Homo sapiens: one gene and its partners. Each later gene encodes a partner of the first gene's protein in a complex. Each region holds a gene or a part of one and is shown on either strand. Other genes may lie near its edges.

Evidence for each region.
Region 2: MED26 (region 1) and MED23 share a complex: the UniProt entries of both Homo sapiens proteins name them as parts of the mediator complex.
Region 3: MED26 (region 1) and MED16 share a complex: the UniProt entries of both Homo sapiens proteins name them as parts of the mediator complex.
Region 4: MED26 (region 1) and MED31 share a complex: the UniProt entries of both Homo sapiens proteins name them as parts of the mediator complex.

What each region holds. Positions count from the first base shown.
Region 1 is NC_000019.10:16,575,766-16,583,309, forward strand, and holds part of MED26 (mediator of RNA polymerase II transcription subunit 26), read right to left. Parts: intron 3,050-7,544; exon of another isoform or gene 2,645-3,049; coding exon 2,570-2,644; intron 2,509-2,569; exon of another isoform or gene 2,401-2,508; intron 1,918-2,400; coding exon 262-1,917; 3' UTR 1-261. UniProt on the Homo sapiens protein: Component of the Mediator complex, a coactivator involved in the regulated transcription of nearly all RNA polymerase II-dependent genes.
Region 2 is NC_000006.12:131,597,119-131,604,662, forward strand, and holds part of MED23 (mediator of RNA polymerase II transcription subunit 23), read right to left. Parts: intron 7,203-7,544; coding exon 7,060-7,202; intron 6,087-7,059; coding exon 5,912-6,086; intron 5,264-5,911; coding exon 5,100-5,263; intron 3,045-5,099; coding exon 2,920-3,044; intron 2,393-2,919; coding exon of another isoform or gene 2,387-2,392; exon of another isoform or gene 2,349-2,386; intron 1,644-2,348; coding exon 1,438-1,643; intron 1,350-1,437; coding exon 1,169-1,349; intron 1-1,168. UniProt on the Homo sapiens protein: Required for transcriptional activation subsequent to the assembly of the pre-initiation complex. Component of the Mediator complex, a coactivator involved in the regulated transcription of nearly all RNA polymerase II-dependent genes.
Region 3 is NC_000019.10:875,937-883,480, forward strand, and holds part of MED16 (mediator of RNA polymerase II transcription subunit 16), read right to left. Parts: intron 5,779-7,544; coding exon 5,623-5,778; intron 4,213-5,622; coding exon 4,001-4,212; intron 1,245-4,000; coding exon 1,038-1,244; intron 1-1,037. UniProt on the Homo sapiens protein: Component of the Mediator complex, a coactivator involved in the regulated transcription of nearly all RNA polymerase II-dependent genes.
Region 4 is NC_000017.11:6,642,540-6,648,878, forward strand, and holds the end of MED31 (mediator of RNA polymerase II transcription subunit 31), read right to left. Parts: intron 2,121-6,339; coding exon 1,928-2,120; 3' UTR 772-1,927; downstream 1-771. Other genes in the region: TXNDC17 (thioredoxin domain-containing protein 17), read left to right, coding at 412-480. UniProt on the Homo sapiens protein: Component of the Mediator complex, a coactivator involved in the regulated transcription of nearly all RNA polymerase II-dependent genes.

The DNA of each region.
Region 1 (7,544 bases):
CTGAACTCACTTTGCCGTCCTTCCTTCCACGCGGTCCTTCTTCGCAATTTTGTTAGTAAACTGGTAGCAGCATTTCACAAAAAGAGTTTTGAGGGAAGAGCGCAGAGAGACCGCGTGACTCCCGCCCCCTCCCTCCCGCCTGGGCCGGACTCCCCGAGTTCCCAGCGCAGGAGGCAGCTGGGCCCCGGCCACCTGCCCACCTGCCTGCCCGCCCACCCGGCTTCTGCAAGATGGGAATGCACTTTGTGGCTGACAGGCCGGTCAGTCCAAGCAGACATAAGGCAGAATGTTCAAGCGCCCGTCGTCGCCGTGCGGATCGAGCGATATGCACTGCGTCCAGTCATACCAGTTACCCTGTGTGTCCTGACACCCGTTCACCCCCGGCCACTGGCTGGCCTGGATTCTGTCGAGATCGTCCTGTGTGACCTCCCGGGTCAGACCAGGGAGGTCCGTGGGCGGGCTTTGAGGCACCAGCACATGCAGCTGCCTGGCCCCTTGCCGGGTGCTCTCCTCCTGCTTCAGGTACTCAGACATGAAGTGGTGAGCCCCTGGGGTCTGCGCGCCCGATGATGAGAGCAGGCTGCTCTGCCGGCTCAGGTAGGACTGGATGATCTCGTTGCGTGACAGCTCCTTCCAGTTCGTCTGTTCGAAGGGGCTCTGGAGGCTGGCCTTGGCCTCCTGCTTGTCCAGCTCTGTCCTGGACTGCTGCTCCATGTGCACAGGGCTGTCTGCCCGCACTGGCTCTTTCTGGGTCAGAGGTTTGATCTGTCTCGTCATGGGGTCAAAGGTGAGCTTCCGCTCTTTTAACCGGACAGGCTTGACGCCCGCCTCAGCCACCTGCCCGTCCAAGTTAACCGTATAGTCTCGAGGTCGGTACCTCTTCTTCTTTTTACTGTCCGAGCCCCCTGAGGAGGCAGCATCACTGTCCGCCTTGGAGGAGTCTGGGGAAAAGCCTGCCCGGGACAGGAGGGGCTCGGCTGGGGACAGCCCTGCCTTGCAGCCCGGCCCCGCCAGCCGCTGGTGGCTCTCAGGCTGCTCAAGCCAGCACACTGGGCTTTCCGCACTGGGCAGCAGCTCGAGCCGCCGTACGGGGGGTGTGGACGGCTGTGCCAGTGGAAGCGGTGACGGCACCTGTGTGGCATCGAGTGCCTGGGGCCGCGGTGAGGGGCTGGGCACGGAGCCCTTGGGTGCATACAAGCTCTGCTGCCGGGCAAAGGAGCCCTCATGCCGTGAGTTCCGAGGACTGAAAGAGCAGCGAGGGGGTCCCTTGGGATGGGGAGGCCCCGGAGTCTCGTCCACCCTGTCCAGCTGCTGCAGCACCGAAGCCTTTGGCTGCAAGCAGGGTCCAGGGGGCTTGCCCAGGCCCGGGGAGCTGGTGTGCGGTCGCACGGCGTTGACGGGGATCTTGCCACTGTGCTTGTCATTCTCGTCACGCTCCAGGCGGCTGCCCTCTGGGCCTGCATGCCCACTGCCATCCAGGGAGCTGGCGAAGCTCTCTGGACTCCCACTGATCCCGTTGGTGGGGAGGGGGGATGAGTTGGGGACCAGGGGGTCGTGGCTAGCTTTGGAGACCTTGGGTGGCGGCCCTGGGTGGCCGAGGTCACGCTGGTCACCCCGGCGCTTGCGGCTGCCCAGCCTGTCCAGCCGCTGCCCGGGCAGCCTCTGGAGGTCATTGCGGCTCTTCAGGTCATGGATGCTCCTGGGTGGGCCAGCCGCCCCCACCTCCGGCCGGCAGTTGTGTGCGCCCCCGTTGGCAGAGCCGGTGGCCCCCGCCAGCCCCCGCAGCGCCGCCTCATGCTGGTGTGCCGGCTCGATGAGCTTCTGCCAGCTCCGCAGCAGCTTCTTGGCCCGCTTGGCGAGCTCCTCGTTCTTGGTTTTCTTGCGGACGTCGTTGATGAGCTTCCCAAGTCGTGTTTCCTACAACCAGAGGGAGATGATGACATACTTTCGGGACAGGAACTTCTCCATGAGCTGAGCCAGAAATGGTGGGAAGTGGCCCTGACAGTGAAATGACCCGGTTCCCACTGAGCCCTAAACTGCCAGCTTCCCTGACACAAAACTTCTGGGGATTTCCGGTCCTTTGTGACAATATAAATTCTCAAACCTAGTTCCCAGACCTTCAGGGTCCCAGGTGGCTTCTCAGCAGTGCTGTCACCCAGGCTCCTGGTGTCAGGGGGCTGTGGACCATCAAGGCCACTGTAAGGACACTGCCAGAGAGGCTTCCTGGGTGAGAGGGTGCTGTGGCCGAGGCGACAGCACAGAGGGTCCGCTTCAAGTGGAGGGTTGGGGATGGTGCCTCTCACTGGAGCCTCCTCCAAGCACACCTCTCCTGATGTCCCCACGTGCCCACGAAGTGTGCTGGGCATGTAGGATGGGAGTAACACCACTTGGTCTCTGCAGTGCCCGTGGGAGAGCAAGATCGCGAGGCACGAGCTGTGAGGGCACACCGCCTCTCTTGGTCCTCCGAAGCAAAGACACTGATGCTCCCAGAAGCTGCGGAAGGACCTGGTTGGTACCATCCCCTGCCCCCCGTTCTGCCCTCCCAAATGCTGGGGTCTGGGATACTCACCTCAAGTGCCTCTTTGGTAATAGGGTATTTCTCCAGGCTGGAGATGACTTCCAGCACCGCCACCATGTTCCGGATCTGTGGAAATAAAAAGCCATTTGTCAGGTCCCTGTCCTTCTCCACTGGGAGGCTGGAACACCCTGCCCCAGCCTGCTCCAGTCTCTCCCCAACCCCAGAGCAAGAGGAGCCAGCAGCACTGAAGCCCCCACTCCATGTCGTCTCCTACCTGCTCCCTGGGCCAACCTGGCACCCAGTGCTCATCCTCACCTGCCGTCTGACCTCCTCCAGTGTGTGGTGTGCGGGCTGCCCCAAGCCCTCCAGTGTACATGGTACATACCCACCCACCTGCTGAAACCCAGGATGCCTGTGGAACAAGAGCTGCTCCTGATACTTAAGATGACCTCTACTCTGCCATCTGATGGGAGTGGGAGAGGAGACACGGAAGAATTCATCGAATAAAATCCACAAAGCTTAAAAGATCAATACACAGGCCAGGCGCGGTGGCTGACACCTGTAATCCCAGCACTTTGGGAGGCTGACGAAGGCGGATCAGAAGGTCAGGAGTTTGAGACCAGCCTGGCCAACACAGTGAAACCCCATCTCTATTAAAAATACAAAAATTAGTTGGGTGTGCTGGCATGCGCCTGTAGTTCCAGCTACTTGGGAGGCTGAGGCACGAGAACCACTTGAACCCGGGAGGCGGAGGGTGTAGTGAGCTGAGACCACACCACTGCACTCCAGCCTGGGTGACAGAGCAAGACTCCGTGTAAAAAATAATAATAATAATAATAATGATAAACCAGTCAATCTGAATCCAAAGACACCATAAAGAGAGCAGAAAGTCACAAAGTGGGAGAAGGCATAGGCCACAGGCCCCCAAGGAGCTGTATCTGGAACACAGAATGCCTGTACAGCAGTACAGCTGACCAGGAGCCCGGCGTAGACTGGCCACAAGACAGGAACAGGCACACGGCAATGAAATGTCAGTGCTGATGCTCAGCCTCTCAGCTTTATCGATAATCAGGAAAACTCAAACTGAACCCACAAATGGATACATGATACACGTGCCCCACTGACAACACTAGGTACTTCGGGGGATACAGCTGACTTTGGGGACTGCTGGGCTTTGTCTGGCAGAGTGAAGCATGAACACATCCCATGACCAAGTAATCCCTCCCTTTTAGGATCTTGCTAGGAGCCACACCTTGTTCTAAGCACTTCCCACACATTACTGACTCCCTTAATTGTTACAACAAGAATTCCTACCACTCAACCACCACCTCCAGCAACTACAGGTTTCTGGTGGGCTGGCTAGCGGGTGGGAGCCCAGGGGCCCTGAGGAAACCACAGTGAGTAGATTACTCAACTCCCCCCCACCCCAACATGATAAAGGAGTTAAGCGGGCACATGATACAAATTAAAACAGCATAAAAGGGCACACAAGGAAATGGGCATCTCTGACCCAGCCACTGTAGCATTTCCTTGCATTTTTTTCCAAAAATATCCCTTGTGTATATAGGCGTATACATCCACACTTATCACATATTTCAAAACCAAACTGACAGTGGTTCTTGCCTTTTCTGACTTAATGTCAGCAATGTCCAGCCTCAAACAGAGCCCCTCATTTGGCTCACCATCCCTTCCAGAGTGGGGAAGGCCCGACTTGAATGCTGTGGGACACTTAGGCACTTTCCGTCCGCCATTACAAAATAAGGCTGCAACCGACGGCAGTGACAGACCTGACTCTGAGCTAGTGCACAGACAGCCATGGAGGAGCTGGGGCTCCACATCCATGCAGGGTGGTCACCTCACCCCCAGGGAGGCTGCTCTATTCCATTCCCACCAGGCCACATCCTTGCCAAGACTGCGTGGCAAGAGTTTCCGTAACACATGATTGTAAACTTAGCATCTTACACAGCACACATTTATCATCTTAGGCTCTAGGGCTCAGAAATCAGGTCTGAGTCTCACTGGGCTGGGATCCTCTCTAGAGGATCCATTTCCTGCTCCTTCAGGTGTTAGCAGAGTTCAGCTCTTATTTTGTTTTTTTTTTTGAGATGAAGTTTCACTCTTGTCGCCCAGGCTGGAGTGCAATGGCACGATCTCGGCTCACTGCAACCTCCGTCTCCTGGGTTCAAGCAATTCTCCTGCCTCAGCCTCCCGAGTAGCTGAGATTATAGGCACCCGCCACCACGCCCAGCTAATTTTTGTATTTTTTTTTAGTAGGGACAGGGTTTCACCATGTTGAAGGCTGGTCTTGAACTCCTGACCTCAGGTGATCTGCCCTCCTCGGCCTCCCAAAGTGCTGGGATTACAAGCGTGAGCCACTGCACCCGGCCCAGAGTTCAGCTCTTTACACTACAGGAATGAGGCCCATTTTCTTGCTGGTTGTCATCCGAAGCCATTCCCAGCTTCTGGAGGGCACTGCATCCAGCTCACACCCCCTCCCCTTATGCTCAAAGCCAGCTACAGGCTGAGTCCTCACCCGGCATCTCTCTGACCCAGCCAGGATAGGTGCCATCTCTAAGGACTCCCTGACTAGGCAGGGCCTGCCCAGATGATCTCGGATCACCTCCCCATCTCCAGGCTGTTCCCTTAGTCACATCTGTCATGTACGGTACCATGTGCCCAGGCTCCAGGACTAGAATGTGGACGTCCTTGAGGGCTGTTAATTCTGCTGGCCTCATGGATTCTGGCTTTTCTACTCTTCTGCCCCACTTCCAGTGGGAGGCAGCCACTGCCACTCCCTCCCTTCCCGTGTTGTCTCCTCTGGGTGTAAAGTTGCAGAGCCACGACAGCAGTCCCCGCAGAACTCCCACAAAGCTGCCCTGCCAATGGGCCCATTTGCTCTTTGGCAACAACGGCCTTGCCTTGCAATGTTCTCCATTCAGGGCTCCAAATGACCCTGAAAACCCTGCTTCAAGCTGTGTCATGGTGGGGGTGGACGGGTGATATGAGGGGAGATACAGTCCTGTCCGCACTCCTCGTGCAATGGGCAGGGATCAGTGCAGGGGAAGACTGTGCGATGAGGAGGCCAGTCCCAGACAGACAGCAAGGCCAACCACTCCCTGCCCCAGGCACTCCAGCACCGACTCAGTCCCTGGGCTTGCCACATGGCTTCACCTCCACCCTGCTGACCTCACCCTGGTATATTTGGAGCCCTGGTTCCCCACATACTCCTGAAGCAGCAGTCCTTGCAGAGCAGAACACTGCCCAGACCCAGCTAGCCTGGTGGCACAAAGTGTCCTTGTCCTTGGGCAGACACCATCCTGCTGCCAGACAAGAGGGAGGAGACAGAACACCTGGGCAACCCCAGGGTCTGGTACTGAGCTGGTGCCCCAGAAATCACCGCTGAACTAACAGCCAGTCCCAAGAGTCTCCTGGAAACTGTGTGGGAGCTGGGGACACCAGGCGAAGGTGTGAGGGCCCTGTGACTGTGTATCCTTACCCTTGGCCCCTCCCCTGCCTTATGAGCCACGCTTAAGCGTGTGCAGAGAGGCCTTCAGCCTCTAGGAGCCCCAAGGGAAATGCTACAGCCTTGGCAGTCCCCTTTCTGTCCCCACCGTGTGAGCTGCTCACCTGAGGAGTAGAGGAGCCCGCCTGCTCTACCTGTAAGGTGCTAGAAACCCACAGTCCTACGCCGTAAACAGATGAACTCTGCCAACACCTGAAGGGGCAGAAAATGGATCCTCCAGAGAGGAGCGCAGCTCGCTGCTTCCTGGATCCCAGCCCGGTGAGACTGGAGCTGACTTCTGAGCCCTAGAGCCTGAGATGATAAATGTGTGTTGTGTAAGACACAGAGAGAGGGTGAGTGTCCAGTGCGGCCACTCCCTGGAGCCAGCAGAAGGCAGTCAGTGATGTCAGCAGAGCTAAGGATGGGGGCAAGGTGAGACTGCCCTGCCCTGCGACCTCTGGGGCATTGATGTCAAGCAGTCTGAACACTGTGTGGGGAGCACCACCTGGGCATCCAGACACAGGCCTCCCAGGCCCAGGAGGCAGACACTGAGCAATGCAGCGAGGAATCCCTGCAAAGGGCCTGGCCCCGACCCCAGGCACACTGAGCCAGAAGGCTCCACAGAGCCTCTTTATAGATGGCCACAGTCTGTCCCAAAGAACACTTAGCACCCAATTGGTGCTGGTCCCATAGGAGCAAAATAGGAGCTGGCTTCTGACCCTGGCCCTGGGGACCCTGCCTTAACAACCAACTGACCCCCCACCCAGGAGTGGCAGGTCTCCCACTCTCATGGAGGTGGCCCTCTGTGAGTGACAGAGACACCAGGACTCGTATGTGGCTGAGGGGAGGCTCCCGCTCTGACTCCAGGCCTGCTAAGTCCAGCATGAACCCTCAGGGCAGGGAGGCAGGCCACAGGGGGAGGGCAGCACCTAAGGTGGCCTCCCAGGGAGGTCAAAAAAGGATGTGGCAGAACGAGCTGTGTCCACCTGGGCTGGAGACCGACTTCCATGCTGGAAAGCAGAAAAGAGCTGGAGAAGGATGGGCAGGGAGCTGGCCAGACAGCACCAAAGCCCTGCGGCAGGGGAGAGGCCATGGGTAAGGACACCGGGAGGAAAAACAGACCCAAAAGACCCAAGGTGGCTCCTTCACAACCTGTCTTCTATCCCCCTTAGCGACTGCCCCCACAGACCACCTGCCCTTGCCCTGTTTCTGGGATGCCCTTGGCACCTGTCCATCTATCTGGGGAAGTACACTAGATCCTAATCTCAGCACAGACACAGTTTGACTCCACATGGGGAGCCGCTCCAGGCGATGGCCTCAAAAGATGGCTTTAAGGCAGCTCTTCAGGCTTGCCAGGGCCATGTCTGTGGCCCGATGGCCAATTGCAGCCTCTTGCTGTCAGGAATAGCCTGGCACATCTGAGGCCCCCTCCTCCTTTGGATTCTCCCTTGGGATTTGTTCCCAGTCCAAAAAAACCTCTCAAAACACCTGCCAAGTTGCTTTCCCAAAGGGGCAGGAATCCCG
Region 2 (7,544 bases), on another chromosome or scaffold:
GTCACCGCCATAGAATTTTTTTCAATGTAGCATTTTCCAGCCTACTTCAATATCTTTTTAAAGAAATCTACCCGAAGGCCAGGCGCGGTGGCTCACACTTGTAATCCCAGAACTTTCGGAGGCCGAGGCGGGCAGAACACGAGGTCAGGAGATTGAGCCCATCCTGGCTAACACGGTGAAACCCCATCTCTACTAAAAATACAAAAAATTAGCCGGGTGTGGTGGTGGGCACCTGTAGTCCCAGCTACTTGGGAGGCTGAGGCAGGATAATGGCGTGAACCCGGAAGGCAGAGCTTGCAGTGAGCCAACATCACGCCACTGCACTCCAGCCTGGGCGACAGAGAAAGACTCCATATCAAAAAAAAAAAAAAAAAAAAAAGAAAAAAAAAATTCTGCTGGAAATAGACATCAAAGTCAGGAGAAGAAAAAAACATTTGGGGAATGTTTGTTACCAAAGTGTACAGAAATGGTTATATTCGCACTCTGTAAAGAAACACAGTGACTTACTGCTACTTCCTCCCTCTAGTGGGAGTTTTGGAGAATCAACTCAGGGTCTAATTGCTCATATTTTCAAAGTATCACAAGGCTAGGACCACATCTATTTTATTTACTTCTGTACCTTCTATACATAGAACACAGTTGATATTCAATATGTACTTATTAAATGAATGAATAAGGAAATTGGGGCTGGAAGCAGTAGCTCACGCCTGTAATCCCAGCACTTTGGGAAGCTGAAGAGGGAGGATTGCTTCAGCCCAGGAGTTCGAGACCAGCCTGGGCAACATGGAGAAACCCCATCTCTATAAAAAAGTTAAAAAGAAAAAAAACTAGCTGGGTATGGTAGCATATGCCTGTACTCCCAGCTACTCAGGAGGCTGAGGCAGGAGGAGATTGCTTGAGACCAGGAGGTTGAGGCTGCAGTGAGCCATGATCACGCCACTGCACTGGGCGACAGAGCGAGACCCTGTCTCAAAAAACAAACAAAAAAACAAAAACAAACAAAAACAGAAATTGGAAAATTTCCGGCTCTTTAGGGAAGTGACAGCAATGCTTGATATAGTATAAATTCATTAAATCCTTCAAAGCAATATAGAGCAGATTGGCATAACATATATTAGTCATACATCTTGATCTAAGAGAATAAGCTTAGAAATGTATTTATTCTTACCAGGCAGAGAATTAATCTGTCCAGTGTAACAATGTTATACTTCCATACCATGTCATTAAGAATTTCAATGCATTTATTGAGTTGCTGACCCCCTGCTGATGTAGAAAACTCATATACCAGGAAATCTGCAAATGTCCTCACATGGGCTACCAAGGCCCTGGCTCCAATTCTCTCTAATACTCTGGAAGGCAGAGAGTAAAACATAAACTCCATTGTTGTATGGATACAACAATTTGCCAAATGGAATGCAAATTAGGTTTTTGACTTACCTATAGCCAATCTGATTAATATGATCTGTTTCCAAGAGCATTTTCCAGAGAAGACAAAGAAAGAGAGGAGGGGAGCCCTGCATAGAGAAGTGGGTAATAATGTCGTTTTCGTTGCTCATTGACTTCCACTTCCTATACTCCTCCTCCACATTTTTTTTCAGATTAAAACGGCTTTCCTGAGGCACATTATTTTGTTTGAAGAATGCCTAAAAAGAGGATTAGAAGTTTATTTCATTGGTTATAGTAGAAAGAGCACTGGATATGGAGTTAATAAACCAGTTCTAGACTTGATTCTGACACTAATAAACTCTAGGTCACCTTGAGCAACTCAGCAATTAAGGCCTGAATTTCTGTGTCTGGAAAATACATAAGCTTGACTAGATTATCTCCAAGATTCCTTTTCCTAGATTTCCTAAATGGAAATTCTAAGTAAGCCTGAATTCAAAGCTTCTTCAATCATCTGTTGATACTTCCGCCAATCTTAAAAAGAAAAAAAAGAATGAAGTGTCTCTACCCTTTGGCTACATATGTTAGTGTCTTTGAGGAAAATCCATTGCACTAGCCCAGTGATTCTCAGAGTGTGGTCCCAACACCAGCGGTATCAGCATCATCTGGGTCTTACAAGAAATGCAAAATTCTCAGACCTTATCCCAGATTTACTGAATCAGAAGCTCTGTGGCTGGGGGCCCAGCCAACTGCAGCTTAGCAAGCCCTCCAGGTGATTTGGTAAGTTTAAAAACCAAATGCTCTAGCCCTACCAGGAGTTATGAAAAATGGATGTTCATCATGCCTAACATTTTTTCTGAAAAGGAGAAGACAGATGAGGTTTGCCTTTCTCCTTATTAGAAAAGCCAGGTTTACAGTTTTTCTGTGATTAAGAAAAAAATTCAGTGAAGTGTCATATTACGCACACTCTGTGAAGCTCCATTACGTTATACTTCTCCCCATTTCAGTTCTATGAGAGAGAAAAAAGTTTTCAGGTACTATGTTAATTTTCATGAGATTCTAAAACCATTAACTATTTTTTTCTCTTTTTCAATTTTTTTCACTTTTATTTTTTTCCTCTTTCTACTCTTCCTCCCCTTAAAACTGTTAACTAAGATGAAACCATAATAATTAAATTTTTAGAAACATGTCCAGTACCAGAGTAGGACACAGAACAACTTGAGAGATTTTGTAAGTAATGACTTTTTTTTTTTTTTCTACAGACAGGGTCTGGCTCTGTCACCCAGGCTGTGGTACAGTGGTGTGACCATAGTTCCTTGTGAACCTGAATTCCTGGGCTCAAGCCATCCCCCTTGCCTCAGCCTCTCAAGCAGTTAAGACTAGAGGCTTGTGCCACCATGCCCAGCCCCTAAATATTTTTTAAAATAAATAAAAGCTAATTTTATTCAGAAGTCACCAAGACTCACTCTAGAACACCATTGTGAATGGGAAGAAGGATTTCATGTGCATTCAATAAGTAATTCAAGACCAAATTACCTGTAGTGGGCCTGGAAAACAGCTCAGGGTGTGTGAAGCCCAATTATGAGGAGTGAAACTCATGATGGTCTGAAGTATGTCTTTACACCAAGTTCCCTGAATTGAATCAGAGCCTGTAAAAAAATCTAAACATAAACAAATAGATGTAATCCAGATATAAATGATTATATCCACAATTCATAAAAGATTATAGCGAAAATAATAATTATGTACACTGAGAATTTCACTGCAGTGCATTCACTGCTTAACTAGTTATATTCAGCTTAGAACCTAAATTTGCTTAGTTTATGAATGATCTGGATGATCACATTAGAAAATATGAGAACAGTTTATGAAAAGATGACAAAAGACATTTGAAATCTCTTTTTTTGAGGTTACAGAGTACCAGCGATAACAGTAATACAAGCCCATCACTACTGTTCATTTACTTTGACACTGATTTAGTAGTACTTTATTCGGCCAAGGGAACAGAATAAAGAAAGATATCTTTTTTGGTGAGTGAAATAATTACATAATGCATGTATAAATCTCAGAATTGAAGAGGGTTCTTTATGTAAAACAAAATAATTTACATAAACGTATTTGAGGTTGCTAAAACCAATAACTATCTCTTTAAAACATCAGTTCTCAAGTGTGGTCTGTAGACCTCTTGGGGATTCCCCAATAGCCCTTCAAAGATTCAATGAGGTCAAATAATAATAAAAAGATATCAGGCTTTTTCACTTGGTATGAGCACTGACGGTACAAAAGCAATGGTGGTAAAACTGCTGGTCCTAAGCACAAATCAAACAGTGGTGCCAGACTAGATGAAAAGGCTTTGTATTCTCCAGCACATGCACTCAGTGAAAGAAAAGTGCCAGTGTCAATCTCGACACCTATTTTTAACATCATATGTAACAAAAGGGGAAGCATATGCCTAGTGTTCCAAGTTTGATGGGTGTCTTGAGGAAAAACACTTGTGCACTTGTGTGACTGACTGAGCACTGAGTTAAATCAGCTGCTTTTTTTTTTTTGAATTCCAATTTTACTTGAAAGAACGTCTGACAGAAAACTATAGCTAGCTAGACTTACGTATTTAGCAGACATTTTCTTGAAAATTAACAAAATGAGCTTGTCACTTTAAGGAAAACAAATGATAGTAACTTTTTCCAATGATAAAATTTGACCTTTCAAGTAAAAATTGAAATTTTGGAAAACCTGTATCTACCACGACATGATAGCATTCCAAAACTTAGATTTTTCTAATAAACTTTGCAGTGATATTAACAAATGTAATTTTCTGATACTGTATAAACAAAATGTCAACGTTTGCTAGATCTACGTAACTCAGTGAACCAGTATTTTCAAAATGAATAATTCATGAAGTTACAAAACATGCATGGATTTAAAAATCCACTAAATGTATAAAACAGATGTACAGATTATAATGTAACAAAGTACATGAAGTTTACTGGGGGTTTTGGATTCCATATTGCAGCTAACCTTTAAGCAACTATCATTTTTCCATGTGATGTCAAAGAACATTCCCAATTATCTGAAAAAGCTATTAAAATACTCCTCTCTTTCCAACCTCATCTGTGTGAGGCCACATTTTTCACTTACTTCAACTAAAACTTCAATGGATTAAATGTCTAAGCAGATGAGAATCCAAACTATGTCTTCCTTTACACCAGATATTAGAGAAGCAAAAATGTCAAACAATGGCACCTCTTCTCACTAAAGTTTTGCTTTAGAAAATATACTTTTTTTATAACATCATATATTAACATGTAATGTTTATTATTGCTATTTAAAAACAAATTAATAAATATTTTTAAACTTCTTAATTTTAATATCTAATATAATAAATATCCATAGATATAATCCATATAAACAGAAACTCTTTGGGAATTTCAATTTTGTTTTTAAGAGTGTAAAGCAGTCCTGAGACCAAAAAGCTTAAAGTATTACTACTTTAAAATTATGGATAGCTGAAAACGATGCTCAACGCAGTTATTAATAGAATGATGGTACACAAAAGAGCTTCCATAAATGAGTGAAATAGTGAAGATATCAAAACAACAGGCTTTTTTCAAACAAATGAAAAGTATCTTTTTAGTATGTTACAACTATAGTAATTAGTAGAATCATGGCACACTTTAATTCATCTGTTGTTGTTTGTAGTCACATATTCACCGTACCTGTTACATGAGTTGCTCTAGCCAAGGTCAATATCAAGGCTCGGTTCAGTTCTTCAGATTCTGCTGAGAGCACTGTTTTGGGATCACTAAGGAAGCGTGTAAACTGCGGTTGTACCTCTGAGCTACCTAATGCTGTTATAAGCCTGAGAGCAGTGCTCTCGACACTGAAAATTGGGAGAATAAAAAGAAATGTAAAAAAATTTCAGAATTATGGAATTAAATCTAAGGTTAATTACAATGGAAAAACATGCAATCTATGACTATCCCTTCTTTAAAAAAACACTTTTGTGTGAGAATAAATGTTGCTTAATTTGTTTAAAAAACCTAATGTGTCCAATTTTATAGTGAAAATCGTGACTTTTTACACATTTGAAAAAGATGGCTTGTCGCCTATAGGACTAAAAAATTTCACCTGGAGATACTGCATTTCAAAAATTATATTTTTCTATCTAAAATATATTTTAATGTAAAGCAAAATCAATGTGACATGATACTTTAACCATAATCTGAAGTATACTTAAAACCAGCATTCTAAAGGGCTAAGTTACAACATAATAATAAATACCCTGGAAGTACTAATTCTCAGTCCAAAGATCCTGAAGGAAGGACTCAACTATCTTAATCAGTTTCTATTTAAAAAGCTGGACTCTGCTCCTATACTGGAAACAAAATACTTTAGAAGCAGAGAAGTTTTATGACAGATGAATAATAATAAAAAAAAAAACTATAAGGTAAAGGTAAAGGATTAAGAACCTCATCTCCAAGAAAGTTTCTAATAAATCTTAAGGAAAGATGGTCTTCAATGAGCTCACCAAAGATGGAGCTGGTTCTGGTTTGTTTGTGCAACTGCAGCCAAAGTATGAAGATGACTCAGGAGCTGAACTCTGTAATGAGGCTGAATATGATGCATCCGGTAGCTAAACATCTCAAGGAGTGTGTGTAAGATCCCCCATGCATGTGATTTGAAAACAGTTGGCAAAAGCTGACCTGGAGGAAAAAGACAATTTAAGGTACCAATTATTAAAGGCTATGCATGAAAAGATATTTGAAGAAAGTCACATTGAGTAAAATATAAAGATTTGATTGTGAAAATACACACGCCCACACACATATATATTCTCCATATTTTCTTATTTTCTACTTTAACAGTAAGGAAAAATTCAGATCCTAACTATAATATCAAGTTTGCTTTTTTCCTGGGATTTGGCAATTGATAATCATGTTTATCTGGAAAAATAAAATGAGACAAGATATGAAAAAACATTAATCTTCTCAATTCTGATATCTTTTATTTTTAGACAATTAATGTTCCATACCTTTTGAAGTATGAGGTTCACTTTTTAATACAAAAAATTGTATTATACCTGCCCTTGTTTCCTCCTACCCCCAAGAAAGTTTTGTTCAACAATCAGTTATCTAAGAAGAGTTATTGTGGTTAAAATTAAGACTATGCTGTATTCGTGAAAAGCTGGAATTACCATGAATCAGAAAAACACTTCTATATCAGAAAGTATCTATTATTTTAGAACTATATAATAAATGAGACATTATAATGTATCTTCTGCAAGGTAGGAAAATTCCTTCTTTATTTCCAGTCAGACTTCGTATGCACTGGAGGACAGCATTGCTGCCTCAGGCAGAATCCATTTGCATGAGGACAGGGACCAGGTCTATCCTGCTCACTGCATCCCAGGCACCTAGCACATTAACCTTTTCTTACCACTTTACTTAAAAATGCAACAAACCCCCCAACCCTCACACTTCCTATTCCTTTTTGCTTTATTTTTCTCTATAACATGTATCATCTGACATATTGTATATTTCATTTATTTAATGTCCTCCTCCATAAGCTCCATCATGGTGGTGACTTGTTCTCTGCTGTGTCCCCAGGACCTAGAAAAGTAACTTTAGAGTTAATGAATGGGTTAATAGTTATAAACACCAGAAAGTCCTGTCTTACTGATAAATCCTTTGATGCCCAAAGACTCTATTTCCATATAGACCAATAAACGACTGTAAGTTTCCACTAGGGCTGGAGCCAAGGCCACACTGGACTTTGCATGAGCAAGTTTTATCACCCTGGTTGCAATGCTGTGAATAAGGCTGAGGAGAAAAAAAGGGAAGAAAATAAAAATCCATATTTTTGACATAAACATAGGGGCTACTCTACTTAGAAGTAACTTAGTATAAATCTGAACTTAAATGATTCAAATGAAGTTGATTCATTTAATGTGTTTAAGCTGTGCAGGACACTTGGTAAGGATGCACTGCACAATCTGAGACTCATTCCGTTTCTGTGGCGCTTTCAATATGCATACGGATCCCCCTGCTCATGGAAAAACAAACTTTGGATTCAACTCATAAGAGCATGCTTGAGGGATTTTGGTCACTCAAATGATGCATCAAAATACATTTGGGAAATTAAATAACTTTTGTCACAGATTT
Region 3 (7,544 bases), about 16 Mb from region 1:
CCCATCTCTACAAAAAATAGAAACAACTAAAAACAAAAATGAAACGCTTGGCACACAGCGACGGCCCAAGGAGGGAGAGGGCGAGGTCTCGCCATCACTAGCGCTGTCACTGGCTACGGATCCCAGCCACGCTGGGGTTTAGCCTCGCAGCCCCCGCCTGGGTCTCACGCGTTTCTCGGCAGGCTGTGCCGTGAATGGGATTTTTTTTTTCCCATTTTATCTTCGTATTGGTTTCTGATGGCACAGAGGAAAACAAGTGAAGCTCAGAGGGCTGGTCCCACGTGCAGCTGCCGGCTGAGCTCGTTAGATCTGAGGTCCTTCGAGGACACTCTGGGATTGCAGGCACATAACCACACCACTGCAAGGGACCCTTCTGGCACGTGGGCCTCCGTATCCGCTCCCTCCTCTCCTTCCGACGGGCGGGTCTCTGTGTGTTCATCTTCTGACCGTGTTTGCTGAGGCCTCACACCACAGGGCCACCGGGTGTGCATCCTGGTACCCATCACATTCTGAGAGGATGGCTTAGAAAGATACCTCCAGACTGGGAACACTGGAGAGGGGAGCCGTCCAGGGGGGATCAGGCCTTACCTGTGGGGCTTAACGTGTTACAGAAGAAACTTCCCAGGTAAGGAAGGAAACTGCTTCTCTGAGGTGCAGCTTTCCTGGACGGGCCTCTGGGAGCACACCCCACACGCAGCCTCACCTGCCACAGGCTACCTGCCCCTCTTGCCCTCCGCCTGCCATAGAGCCCCCAACCTGCCGCAGGGAAACCCCTCCAGCTGCCACAACCCCCACATCTGCCGTGGGGACCTCTACAACTGCTGCAGAGACCTCCTCCACCCTCCAAGGGAACTCCCTCCCTGCTGCTGGCACTTTACTGACCACGGGGCCCCTGCCTGCCACAGGGACAGCCCCACCTGGCACGGGACCACCTGCCACGGGGCCCCCACCTGCCACGGGGCCCCACCTGCCACGGGGCCCCCACCTGCCACAGGGCCCCCACCTGCCACGGGGCCCCACCTGCCACGGGCCCCCACCTGCTGCAGGGCAGCGGTCTGGCGCGTGTACTCCTCGTGCAGCTTCTCCACCAGGCTCTGTACCATACTGGGCTGCACGTGCAGCAGGATGTCCCACCAGTCGTAGCCGGTCACCATGCAGTACTCCAGCAGGAAGAGCAGGTGCCGCAGCGCCAGCCCCACCTCCAGCGGGTGGCCCATGGAAGGTGAGAGGCGGAGCACGCTCAGCTGCCAGAGACAGAGCCCAAGGAGAGCCCGGTGAGATGGGGCTGCGCCCTCAGCCGGGAGAGGAATGGGGCCCTGGGGCTGCGGCACGTGTGTGGATCTGTGTGCGCGCACGCCCGTGTGTGGGCCTGTGTGCGCGCATGTGTCTGTAGCGTCTGTACCTTTCTGTCAGGGTCATGCACAATGCCTCTGGGAACAGGGAAGGAAACCTCCCTGAGCCCCGACTGCACTGGATGCCGAGCCAGGCTTACACTCGTCTGCTTTACCTGAGGAGTCTACCCCGTGAAAGGCGGTCCTCTCAACAGCTCCTAGTTACGAAGCTCCTAATACGTGCTGTGAGCCACCCCACTGACCTCGCTCAACAAGACGAACCCATCACACAGACAAGGCAGCGCAGGCAGGGGCTGGCGAGGGGCTTGCACCTGTGGTCCCTTCCCCCGGGGGCGCCTCCCTCTGGCACCCTCCCAGCCCCAGCCCCAGCCCCAGACCCACGTGCCCCAGCAGCTCGCCTTCCCCTGGTTGTCAATGCCCACCAGCCCCTGCCCCACGTGCCCCAGCAGCTCACCTTCCCCTGGTTGTCAATGCCCACCAGCCCCAGCCCCAGCCCCAGCCCCAGCCCCACGTGCCCCAGCAGCTCGCCTTCCCGTGGTTGTCAATGCCCACCAAGCCCAGCCCCACATGCCCCAGCAGCTCGCCTTCCCCTGGTTGTCAATGCCCACCAGCCCCAGCCCCACGTGCCCCAGCAGCTCACCTTCCCGTGGTTGTCAATGCCCACCAGCCCCAGCCCCAGCCCCAGCCCCACGTGCCCCAGCAGCTCACCTTTCCGTGGTTGTCAACGCCCACCAGCCCCAGCCCCAGCCCCACGTGCCCCAGCAGCTCGCCTTCCCCTGGCTGTCAATGCCCCCCAGCCCCAGCCCCAGCGCCACGTGCCCCAGCAACTCACCTTCCCCTGGTTGTCAATGCTCAGCAGCTCACCTTCCCGTGGTTGTCAATGCCCACCGAGCCCAGCCCCACGTGCCCCAGCAGCTCACCTTCCCCTGGTTGTCAATGCCCACCAGCCCCAGCCCCAGCCCCAGCCCCACGGGCCCCAGCAGCTCGCCTTCCCCTGGTTGTCAATGCCCACCAGCCCCAGCCCCACGTGCCCCAGCAGCTCACCTTCCCGTGGTTGTCAATGCCCACCAGCCCCAGCCCCAGCCCCAGCCCCACGTGCCCCAGCAGCTCACCTTTCCCTGGTTGTCAATGTCCACCAGCCCCAGCCCCGGCCCCGGCCCCGGCCCCACGTGCCCCAGCAGCTCACCTTCCCCTGGCTGTCAATGCCCACCAGCCCCAGCCCCACGTGCCCCAGCAGCTCACCTTCCCGTGGTTGTCAATGCCCACCAGCCCCAGCCCCAGCCCCACATGCCCCAGCAGCTCACCTTCCCGTGGTTGTCAACGCCCACCAGCCACAACCCCAGCCCCACGTGCCCCAGCAGCTCACCTTCCCCTGGTTGTCAATGCCCAACAGCCCCAACCCCACGTGCCCCAGCAGCTCGCCTTCCCCTGGTTGTCAATCCCCACCAGGGCCAGCCCCACGTGCCCCAGCAGCTCCCCTTCCCCTGGTTGTCAATGCCCACCAGCCCCAGCCCCACGTGCCCCAGCAGCTCCCCTTCCCCTGGTTGTCAATGCCCACCAGCCCCAGCCCCAGCCCCAGCCCCACGTGCCCCAGCAGCTCACCTTTCCCTGGTTGTCAATGTCCACCAGCCCCGGCCCCGGCCCCGGCCCCGGCCCCGGCCGCAGCTCCACGTGCCCCAGCAGCTCACCTTCCCCTGGCTATCAATGCCCACCAGCCCCAGCCCCAGCCCCACATGTCCCAGCAGCTCACCTTCCCCCGGTTGTCAATGCCCACCAGCCCCAGCCCCAGCCCCACGTGCCCCAGCAGCTCGCCTTCCCCTGGTTGTCAATACCCCCCAGCCCCAGCCCCAGCCCCAGCCCCACGTGCCCCAGCAGCTCGCCTTCCCCTGGTTGTCAATGCCCAGCAGCTCACCTTCCCATGGTTGTCAATGCCCACCAAGCCGAGCCCCACATGCCCCAGCAGCTCGCCTTCCTCTGGTTGTCAATGCCCAGCAGCTCACCTTCCCATGGTTGTCAATGCCCACCAAGCCCAGCCCCACGTGCCCCAGCAGCTCACCTTCCCCTGGTTGTCAATGCCCACCAGCCCCAGCCGCACATGCCCCAGCAGCTCACCTTTCCCTGGTTGTCAATGCCCACCAACCCCAGCCCCACGTGCCCCAGCAGCTCGCCTTCCCCTGGTTGTCAATGCCCACCAGCCCCAGCCCCACGTGCCCCAGCAGCTCGCCTTTCCCTGGTTGTCAATGCCTACCAGGGCCACGCCCCAGCAGCTCGCCTTCCCCTGGTTGTCAATGCCCAGCAGCTCACCTTCCCGTGGTTGTCAATGCCCCCCAAGCCCAGCCCCACGTGCCCCAGCAGCTCACGTTCCCCTGGTTGTCAATGCCCACCAGCCCCAGCCCCACGTGCCCCAGCAGCTCGCCTTCCCCTGGTTGTCAATGCCCAGCAGCTCGCCTTCCCCTGGTTGTCAATGCCCACCAGCCCCAGCCCCACGTGCCCCAGCAGCTCGCCTTCCCCTGGCTGTCAATCCCCACCAGGGCCAGCCCCACGTGCCCCAGCAGCTCACCTTCCCCTGGTTGTCAATGCCCAGCAGCTCGCCTTCCCCTGGTTGTCAATGCCCACCAGCCCCGGCCCCACGTGCCCCAGCAGCTCACCTTCCCGTGGCTGTCAATCCCCACCAGGGCCAGTGACGTCCACGATAGCTGCATAGCCTTTAAGTGGACGGCGGGGCCCGCGGTGCGGGGGCGCTTCATGGCCGGCTCATCCACAGGCCTCGGGGCCGCGGAGCTGTAGAAGACGGCCATGGTCTGCAGTGAGAGCCGGTGCACGATGTGGACGCTGCCGTCGTGGAAGGCCAGGGCCAGCCCTGTGGGGCACAGGCACTGCTTAGACATGGGCAGGGCCCAGGACACGCCCGCCGGGGGAGGGGCCTCCTGCTCTGCAGGGTGTGGAGAGCCGGGGCTGCCCATCCAGGGGGTCAGCCCCCGCCAATCGGCATCCAGCGCCCGTGCCCCCAGCCACTCTTTCTTTAGTTACACAGTCCCTGAGCACCAGGGGAGCAGGAGCCAGCAGCCTTGGCCACACTGCTCCCAGCCCCTCCCCGCCCCTCCCAGCTGGGCCCATGTCCTGGCTGACACGCCCCTCAAGGAGCGCAGGGGAGGGGGGCACTACAGGTGGGGGACCAAGGGTTGGGGCTCCTGGCGTCCCAAAGAGAGGCATCTTAGGGTGGTGGGCTGGGGCTGTCACTCACACTGGGGTCTGCCATTGTACGAGGGCCGGGGGGAGGTGGGGTCCAGAGCCCAAAGCTCATGGAAAAGAGAATATGAAAGGAGTCCCTGCAGTAGAGAGGCTGCAAAGCCGGGCGCGGTGGCTCACGCCTGTAATCCTAGCACTTTGGGAGGCTGAGGCGGGCAGATTGCCTGAGCTCAGGGGTTCGAGACCAGCCTGGGCAACACCGGTGAAACCCCGTCTCTACTAAAATACAAAAAATTAGCCGGGCGTGGCAGCACGCGCCTGTAGTCCCAGCTACTCGGGAGGCTGAGGCAGGAAGGAGAATCGCTTGAACCCAGGAGGCGGAGGTTGCAGTGAGCCGAGATCACACCACTGCACTCCAGCCTGGGCAACAGAATGAGACTCCAACTCAAAAAAAAAAAGAAAAAAAAAAATAGAGCCTGGAAAATGGAGCATAAACCAAGGGTTTTGGAGCAGGGAACTGCATCCCCTCAACCTCTCTGCAGGCTCTGAGGAACAGCCCTGAGCCCCGAGCGGGTTTTGATAAATGCTCTTTCCAGGGAACCAGGGAAGAACGGGAGCTGGGGGAAGAAAGGGCCTGAGCTAGGGCCGACTTGTCCACATTTTACAGCTGAGCAAATAGGGTAGGCACTGAAGAGTGTGCAGACTCACTCATGGGCACGGATGCCACGGTTTGAGCTCAGGACCACATTATGGCTGCTGCAGCACAGAGAGGACACATGCCGCCTACCCAGGAAGGAGTTCCACCAAGTTCCCCAGGCTCCCTTGTTGATTTGCAATGACTCTTTACATATTAAAGAACACTGGATCTGTCTGCCAGCCTCACAGATCCCGAAAGATGAGATCTGCCTCCTAATTGGGAACCCATCAGAACCCAGAAGGCTGAGCTCCTACAGCCCCATGGCCTGTGCTCAGAGCCCACGTCCTCTGGTGTGAGCTCCCACGACCCCGTGGCCTGTGCTCAGGGCCCAACTCCCCTGGTGTGAACTGAGGCCCCGCGTGGCTGCCGCTGGCTCCACCGTACCGAGGCCAGGGTAGAACTGTGTGTCGCTGGCCACCTTGAGGTCGGTGTTGGTGAGCGAGATGGGCAGCTTGGGCAGCGCCACGGCCGACACACGGTCCAGATCGTTGGTGGCCGATAGGATCCGCCATTTGAGAATTGTGGGCTGTTTGTCGCCAACTGAAAAATCAGGGGCAGGAAAACAGGAAGGCAATGGAGTAAAGACAGGCTGAGACAGCCGCAGGAGTCCAGCATGGCCTGGTGTGCAACCTGCCCAGGGCCCTTCCCAGGTCTCATGCCGCCCTGCTCCCATGCCCAGAAGACCAGGCCCGGCCAATCCGAGCGCTTCGTGCCTCGGCCACTCATTGGTTCCAGGATGGGCACGTGACCCAAGGTGGGCCCTGGGATTTCATGGAAACCTGTGGGCCGGCACCATCTCACCCCCGATGGGGCAGACAGTGGGGAGACGGCGCCACCTCAGACCTGCAGCCATGCAAACCCTAACACTCGCTCGGCCTTAGCCAGCTCAGCCGGGATTCCCATCCCTCCTCATCTACAATTCCAATAAAGCCATGCGGGATGGTCGCACCCACAGATCCGCTGCCTGACAGCCCCTGCGTGAAGACGCAGCTCCTCCCAACAGGGCAGAGACTTCTGGGAATCTCAGGCCAAGCCTTAGCAAATGTGACATGGCCGGGCACAGCAGCTCACATCTGCCACCCCAAGACTTTGGGAAGCCAACGCCAGAGGATGGCTTGAGTCCAGGAGTTCAAGACCAGCCTGGACAACACAGCAAGACCCCATTCTCTACAAAAAAAACACAGTAAACATTAGCTGTGTGTGGTGGTGATGCACGCCTGCACACGCCTGTAGTCCCAGCTACTCAGGAGGCTGAGGTAGGATTGCTCGAGCCCAGGAAGATGAGGCTGCAGTGAGCCAAGATCACGCCACTGCACTCCAGCCTGGGCAACACAGCAAGAGCCTAGCTCAAAAACAAAAAACAAAAACAGTGGCCCAGAGAGCACGTGTGGGGGGTCCTGCTGTGGCTGCATGTGGGACACGGAGGGCAGCTGGAGCCGGCCTGCTGGAGCATGTGCGGCCAGTGGACAGGCCACGCCACCTCGGCTGCTAACCGCAGACACGTGGGAACCAGGAGAGCGCAGCTGAGGCAGCCACAGAAACAGAAACAGTGCAGGGCTGCTGGCCTGAGCTGCTCAGTTTGGGGCTGGCTTGTTACTCGGCTGAAGCTGACTACCACGCAGCTGCTCTGTGCCACCCGCATCATGAGGTCTCTGCCCCGGACGGGCCATCACGGTCACAGAGCCTTGACCTCCTGCAAACCCGTATAGGGGTCCTGTGAGCAGCATTCCCTGGGGGGAAACAGGCCCAGAGAGTGGCTGAGACGCCCAGAGGGCACACAGTGGTCAGGGGTGGCTGGCCCTCATGGAATTGAGCCTCTCATAGGAAAGACAGGAAACTCAACGCCCCAGCGCCGGGGGAGGCAGCTGCCATGACGACCACACCCCCAGCTAGTGGCCAGGGTACCCTCACAGCACGATTTACATCCCCTCCTCCATCCAACTGACGGCTGCGGTCAGCATTCCTAAATGAGGGGGGACTTGAGGCAGGGAGAAGCTAAGCTGCTAAGTGGGGATGTGGGGCAGTGGGTGAAGAGCTGGGCATGGTAGGAACCGAAGCCTGGCATGGTGGGCACGTGGGGCGGTGCGTGAAGAGCTGGGCATGGCGGGGACCGAAGCCTGGCATGGTGGGCACGTGGGGCGGTGGGTGAAGAGCTGGGCATGGCGGGGACCGAAGCCTGGCACGGTGGGCACGTGGGGTGGTGGGTGAAGAGCTGGGCATGGCGGGGACCGAAGCCTGGCACGGTGGGCACGTGGGGCGGTGCGTGAAGAGCTGGGCATGGCGGGGACCAAAGCCTGGCATGGTGG
Region 4 (6,339 bases), on another chromosome or scaffold:
CAGAAAGTAGGTTGACTCATAATTCCTTAAAACATTTGCATCAACAGTTGTTTTCTGTTTAATTCATAATTCTGGTTAAAAAGTAAGGGCATCTCTTCTAGTTCAGTCATGCCCCTGGGATCCTAAATTAAAGAGTTGAGGGGAAGAAGAGGGCACTGGGCTTGCTGTCTCCTGTTTTAGTCTGTGGAGCTTCCTGGTATTTGGGGTTTAAGTCTCTTGAGCCAAGTATGTTAGTGATTCATCTTACAGCAAATATATTGATTCTTTCATAAAACTTGTTATAACTAGATGATAGTTTCTGAATTGCGTAATTTCTGTGTTCAAAGATGAGTGTCATTCAAGGCAGAACTCATTCCACTCCTAATAACGTTTTATAGAAGTAGTGAAGATTTGACTGTTTTTCTCTTACAGCCTCAAAAACTGGTAGAATCTGAGTGTCTTCAGGCCAACCTGGTGGAAATGTTGTTCTCTGAAGATTAAGATTTTAGGATGGCAATCATGTCTTGATGTCCTGATTTGTTCTAGTATCAATAAACTGTATACTTGCTTTGAATTCATGTTAGCAATAAATGATGTTAAAAAAACTGGCATGTGTCTAAACAATAGAGTGCTATTAAAATGCCCATGAACCTTTAGTTTGCCTGTAATACATGGATATTTTTAAGATATAAAGAAGTCTTCAGAAATAGCAGTAAAGGCTCAAAGGAACGTATTCTTGAAGGTGACGGAAATACCTAAAAACTCCTAAAGGTGCAGAGCACACCTTCCAAATCTCTCAAAAGATCAGTATCTTTTATTTTAAGTTATCTCCATCTGCAAAGCAACTGATGATATTCCTGAAACCCCTTCTTTGATTTTGGAATGTAGAACCTAACCTCACCACTGAAGGAAAGCACATGACCTCTAATCTAGCCTCTGCTTAATTCAGGCAGTTTTGTTTTGTTTAATAAAAAACAGACTCCTGAGCACTAGAAGCAGTTTGTTTTGCAGCTGTCTCAATGTGCTTTACTTGGGATGAGGCAGGTGGCGGAGAGCGGCCGGAAAGACTCTATAACCCAGTTCTGGGAAGAACTCCAAGCTGGGAGTCAGTCACACTGACTCTACCACTTACTAGCTGTGTAACCACAGGCAAGTTACTCACCCCGTCCAAACCTCAGTTTTCTCTTCTATAAACAAGGTTCTTAGAATAAAATGAGAATTCAAGGAAGCACTTAACATAGCACCTGGTTTGTGGTACCTCCCAAATCAATGGTAGCTTTCCCAAATGAACACAAGTATTTGAGGCTCCTCATGTTTGTTCTAAAGTCAAGAGTCCAGTTAGTAACTAACCACTAGTTGTCCTGCCATGACTAGGTCAAGTGAGGCCACAGTGATTCAGTGATTCTTAAAGCCACCTTGCAAAGCAGGTAATACAGTTATTTCCTGTCCTGCAGAATTCAAGAACCTTTATGCAGTTCCTGTCCTATGATTTAAAGAGGTCAGTGACTCCGCTACTCTCACTACATCTTAGAGTAGAGTGGTAGAGTAGTTGATCTGAGACAGTAAGGTTCCAGGAGATGGTCTTGCCCTACTATATGTCAGGAACAGCTAGCCTTAGAATTCAGTATACTTGGTGGCCCACCCCTACCCCATGCCCCAGTGCCTTATTTGGTCTAAAGCACCTAACTTTTCCATTCTTAATCAGCTGATTATGCTAAATGCGTAAAAAAGAAAAACACCTTACAAATCCACAGGGAAATCAAAGAACAATTCAGGTTTAACAGAAATAGTCTATTAACAATAAAAAGTTGGATGAAAAAGCACACTAAAGGTTCTAGGGGCTACCATAATAAAGGTAGATAGGAAGAGTTTTCATTTTTTTTGTCTTCACTGTACAAAAGAAATACATTATATACATGTATTAAGTGCCTCGTTTGTATCCAGTTTTTCATTTTCCCGATGTGTTATTTTGCTGTTGCTGCTCTGCCAAGGCTTGCTGAAGGCGCATCCGCTTCCGGGAATAGTGCTGCCAATGTAGAATCTGCTGTTCATCAATAAATTTCGCACACTGAGCATTCACCAGCTCCTTTCGGAAGTGTTCATATTGGAGCAGCTCTAACATGTGTAAACACTGAGGGTACCTGGGTTTAAGTTTGTAAGTGAATGAACAACATAATTTAGGTAAATAATGCCAAGGTATAATTCAGTTATTCTCTTAAAAACGATCTTGTAGCCTACCATTTCTATAACAGTAACTTAGTACACTCTGGTAGCATAGGGTTTTTTCCCCGATTAGTCATCAAAGGTCAGTGTTCAATATTTTCGAAAATGAGAAGGTTTAAGTTCAGAAAGATTAAATTAACTTGCTCAAGACCACACAACACAGTAACTGGTAAGCAGAGTGAAAATTTAGGGACAAACCATGCTATTCCCTTCTAGCGGTTTCCAACGTGAAGAACATGAACATATTTTAGTAATTATGTGTTTAATTGATAGTTACTCATTTTTCCTTCAATAGGGATAAAAAGACAACTTTCATTTAAAAGTGAGTGTGAAAGAGGACTATGCGCATACATTGTACTCTTGTTGTCCACAGGGATATACCAATTCTGAAATTAGATATACTCTAGGATTGGACAAGCAAATATACTGTGGATAAGGACAGCCAAATTTCTGGCTATCAGAAAAGGAGTTATAGACATGGAAAGGAAAAAGGCTAGAATGAACCCTGTGTTACTGAGCTGGTATTGAAAACATCAGTATGTACTTACGGCTTTTAATATAGACATAGAATAAACATGTATATGTGTGTGCATGTATACACATACATACATATATATATAGTTCTTGAGCTTTGTGTACTGACAGGGCCTAGAAGCAATGACACTGTGGTACTAATGAACACACAATGACCAGACTGTGGTTTCCAAGGAGCAGGTTTCCTTGGAGAAAAGGGTGATTCAGGGATAAGACAGGAAAAGTACAAGATGAGCCTGGAACATTACGTAGTGCCAGAAGAAAAAGTGCTAAAAATTCCTGGGAGGATCAAAAGTATTCAGGAGCCAACTTGAAGGGCCTCCCAATGGCCAAATCTGGAATACTTAGCGCAAGAAAATACATAATTCTAATTCATAATTCTACTAAAAATAAGAATCCAAAAGTCCACACTAAATGGATGTAAATTTCTTTAATAAAATAATAGGAAACAAGGGAATATAATTCCTTACAATCGAATTCCAAACTAATAAATGCAGAATGATAGAATTAGAAAATCATCACAGTAAAAAATGTTTCAGGCAATTATCTTCAAAAGATGCTAAAACAGGCAAAATACATGTAATATGATATTTACATAGTCTCAAAGGATTTCCCTATAAGATACTTATTAAATACACAAGGAAAAATAGCAACTTAATATGGAGAAACCTAGACGGTACCACCCTCAACCAAGTTACCAAAATTTACGTCACCAGTAGTGGGACAAATAGACTTCATGTGACTGCAGATATATGAAGGATACAAATCATTTCTGTCATAGTCATGGAAAAGAAAAGACCACTGAGATGAAAGGAGACTAAGAAGACATGACAGCAAAATGCAACATACGGGCCTAGACTGGATCCTGCACTACATACAGCACACCAGCAGAACAACTGGCAAAATGTGAATGAGGTCTGTAGATTAGGTAATAATATTAATGTGCTGATTTTTGCTGATTGTAGTGTTACACATTTGGAATACGTGGGTGAACAAAATACAGGAATTATCTTTACTATTTTTCCAGCTATTTTGTAAGTGAAATTATTTCAAGTTGAAAAGACATAAAAGCTAACAGACAATTAAAATACATTAACATATAGGAAGTGTGGGGAAAAGAGATCAGATTGTTCCTGTGTCTACGTAGAAAAGGAAGACATAAGAAACTCCATTTTGATCTGTACTAAGAAAAATTGTTCTGCTTTGAGATGCTGTTAATCTGTAAATTTAGCCCCAACTCTGTGCCCCCAGAAACATGTGCTATATTGAATCAAGGTTTAATGGATTTAGGGCTGTGCAGGATGTGCCTTGTTAACAATATGTTTGCAGGCAGTATGCTTGGTAAAAGCCATCGCCATTCTCCATTCTCGATTAACCAGAGACACAATGCACTGCGGAAGGCCGCAGGGACCCCTGCCCAGAAAAGCCTGGGTATTGTCCAGGTTTCCCCCAACTGAGACAGCCTGAGATATGGCCTCGTGGGAAAGGAAAGACCTTACATCCCCCAGCCCGACACCTGTAAAGGGTCTGTGCTGAGGAGGAGTAGTGAAAGAGGGAGGCCTCTTTGCAGTTGAGATAAGATGAAGGCTTCTGTCTCCTGCTCGTCCCTGGGAATGGAATGTCTTAGTGTAAAGTCGACCATTCCCATTCGTTCTATTCTGAGATAGGAGAAAACCGCCCTGTGGCTGGAGGCGAGATATGCTGGCAGCAATACTGCTTTGTTGCTCTCTGCTAGTTAGATATTTGTGTAAAGTGAAACATAAATCTAGCCTATGTGCACATCCAGGCACAGTACCTTTCCTTGAACTTATTCATGATACAGATTCCTTTGCTCACGTTTCCCTGCTGACCTTCTCGCCACCTGTTGCCCTGCTACACTCGCCTCGCCAAGACAGTAAAAATAATGATCAATAAATACTGAAGGAACTCAGAGACCGGCACTGGTGCGGGTCCTCGCATGCTGAGTGTGCCGGTCCCCTGGGCCCACTGTTCTTTCTCTATACTTTGTGTCTTATTTCTTTTCTCATTCTTTCATCTCCACCTGACGAGAAATACCCACAGGTGTGGAGGGGCAGGCCCCCTTCAGGAAGTATGCAGATAAAGCCAAAGTTGCACAAGTGATATGCAAATGACTAAAGTGTGGAAAATAGGATACTACAGCAATGCTTCTAAAACTTTAATGTGTATATGGGTCACTTCTTAAAATGCAGATTGAATCCTTAGGCCTGGAGTGGGGCCTGAGCTCTGCATTTCTAAAAAGCTCCCAAATGAAACCAATGCTACTGATGTGAACACCACATTGAATAGAGGGCTTAATACCATGCTTCTAAGATAGTAACTTCCAAGACAGCAAAGATTTGCTATCCACACACTAAAAATACACAGTTGCTCTAATTGTTGGCTGCTTATGCTAGAATGCTCTATTCACACCTGCCCTGGCTAACTCCCTTTCATGACAGCATTAGTAGTTAAAATGACCAGGATGTTATGTTCCAGCCAGGTGGCCTTTAACAAGGTACTTAACCTCTCTAAGGTTCAGTTTCTTCAACTGTAAAATAATGTGACAACCAAGAGAATGGTCTCAAGTAGCATTTAGTCAATAACTAGAATTTAGACATGCAGTGATTATATCAGAATACCTTAGATGACAATAAAGAATCATACTCTGATAGGCTACAAGTCAACAAGATGAAATAGAAGCAGTATAAAAGGGAAGTTCTGCATTTGGTGTTTTTAAAAAGAAACAACATAGGGAGAACCCAACAGCATGATGAAAATAAGAACTGAAGGATTTTAGTTGACATAATGCTTCCAGCAAGTCAACAATGTGATCCTCTTCCCCACTCCCACCCCCAAAAGTAATATAAACTTAAGTTGAATTAACAGAGGTGTATGACCACATGAAGAAAAGAAAGGACCTCTGGCCCACTGTACTCTGACCACACCTGAAGGCCTGTGTTTAGTTCTTGGCTGAACTGCATAAAGTACAACTGCCAAATATCCAAAGGAGGGAACCTCAACTCATGAGAACTCTGGACACCATGGCACAATGGCAGAGGGTAGTTGAGAAAAATAGATGGAAGAGAGATGTTATAGTGGCACCTACTGGCTATCAATGAAGCAGGCCAAGTGGTAGAAAGTGTCTCTTCCACCAGGTGGAAAGCAGCTAGTAGTGACAGCTGCTCTCAGCTTCAGCCCAGTTGTTGACTTGGGAGAATTAAGATCTATGGTTACTAGATCTTCCAGATTTGAAAGAGTAGCTGGAAATCTGCATTTGTTATATACAACTTTCTGATCTTTAAATGTTGGCAAGTATTAAAAAAACTAAAATCTTCTGCAGACTGAATAAAACACCCAAAAGGGGCTAATTTGCAGTCTCTCTTGAATGTAAATATCTGGAAGGCTGTTGTCCTCAAGAGGGTATAGAATGGTTCTAGCTTCATCCAGGGACAAACAGACTGGGGCTACAAGGAGGTACATTATATCACAATATAAGGAAGAACTTTCTAATATCTGGCTAACAATCGAATCAGCTGTCCCTGACAGAGTAACACGGGCTCAATGGAAACCTCCAGAGTGTAGATGACCATCTCTCGGCAACGT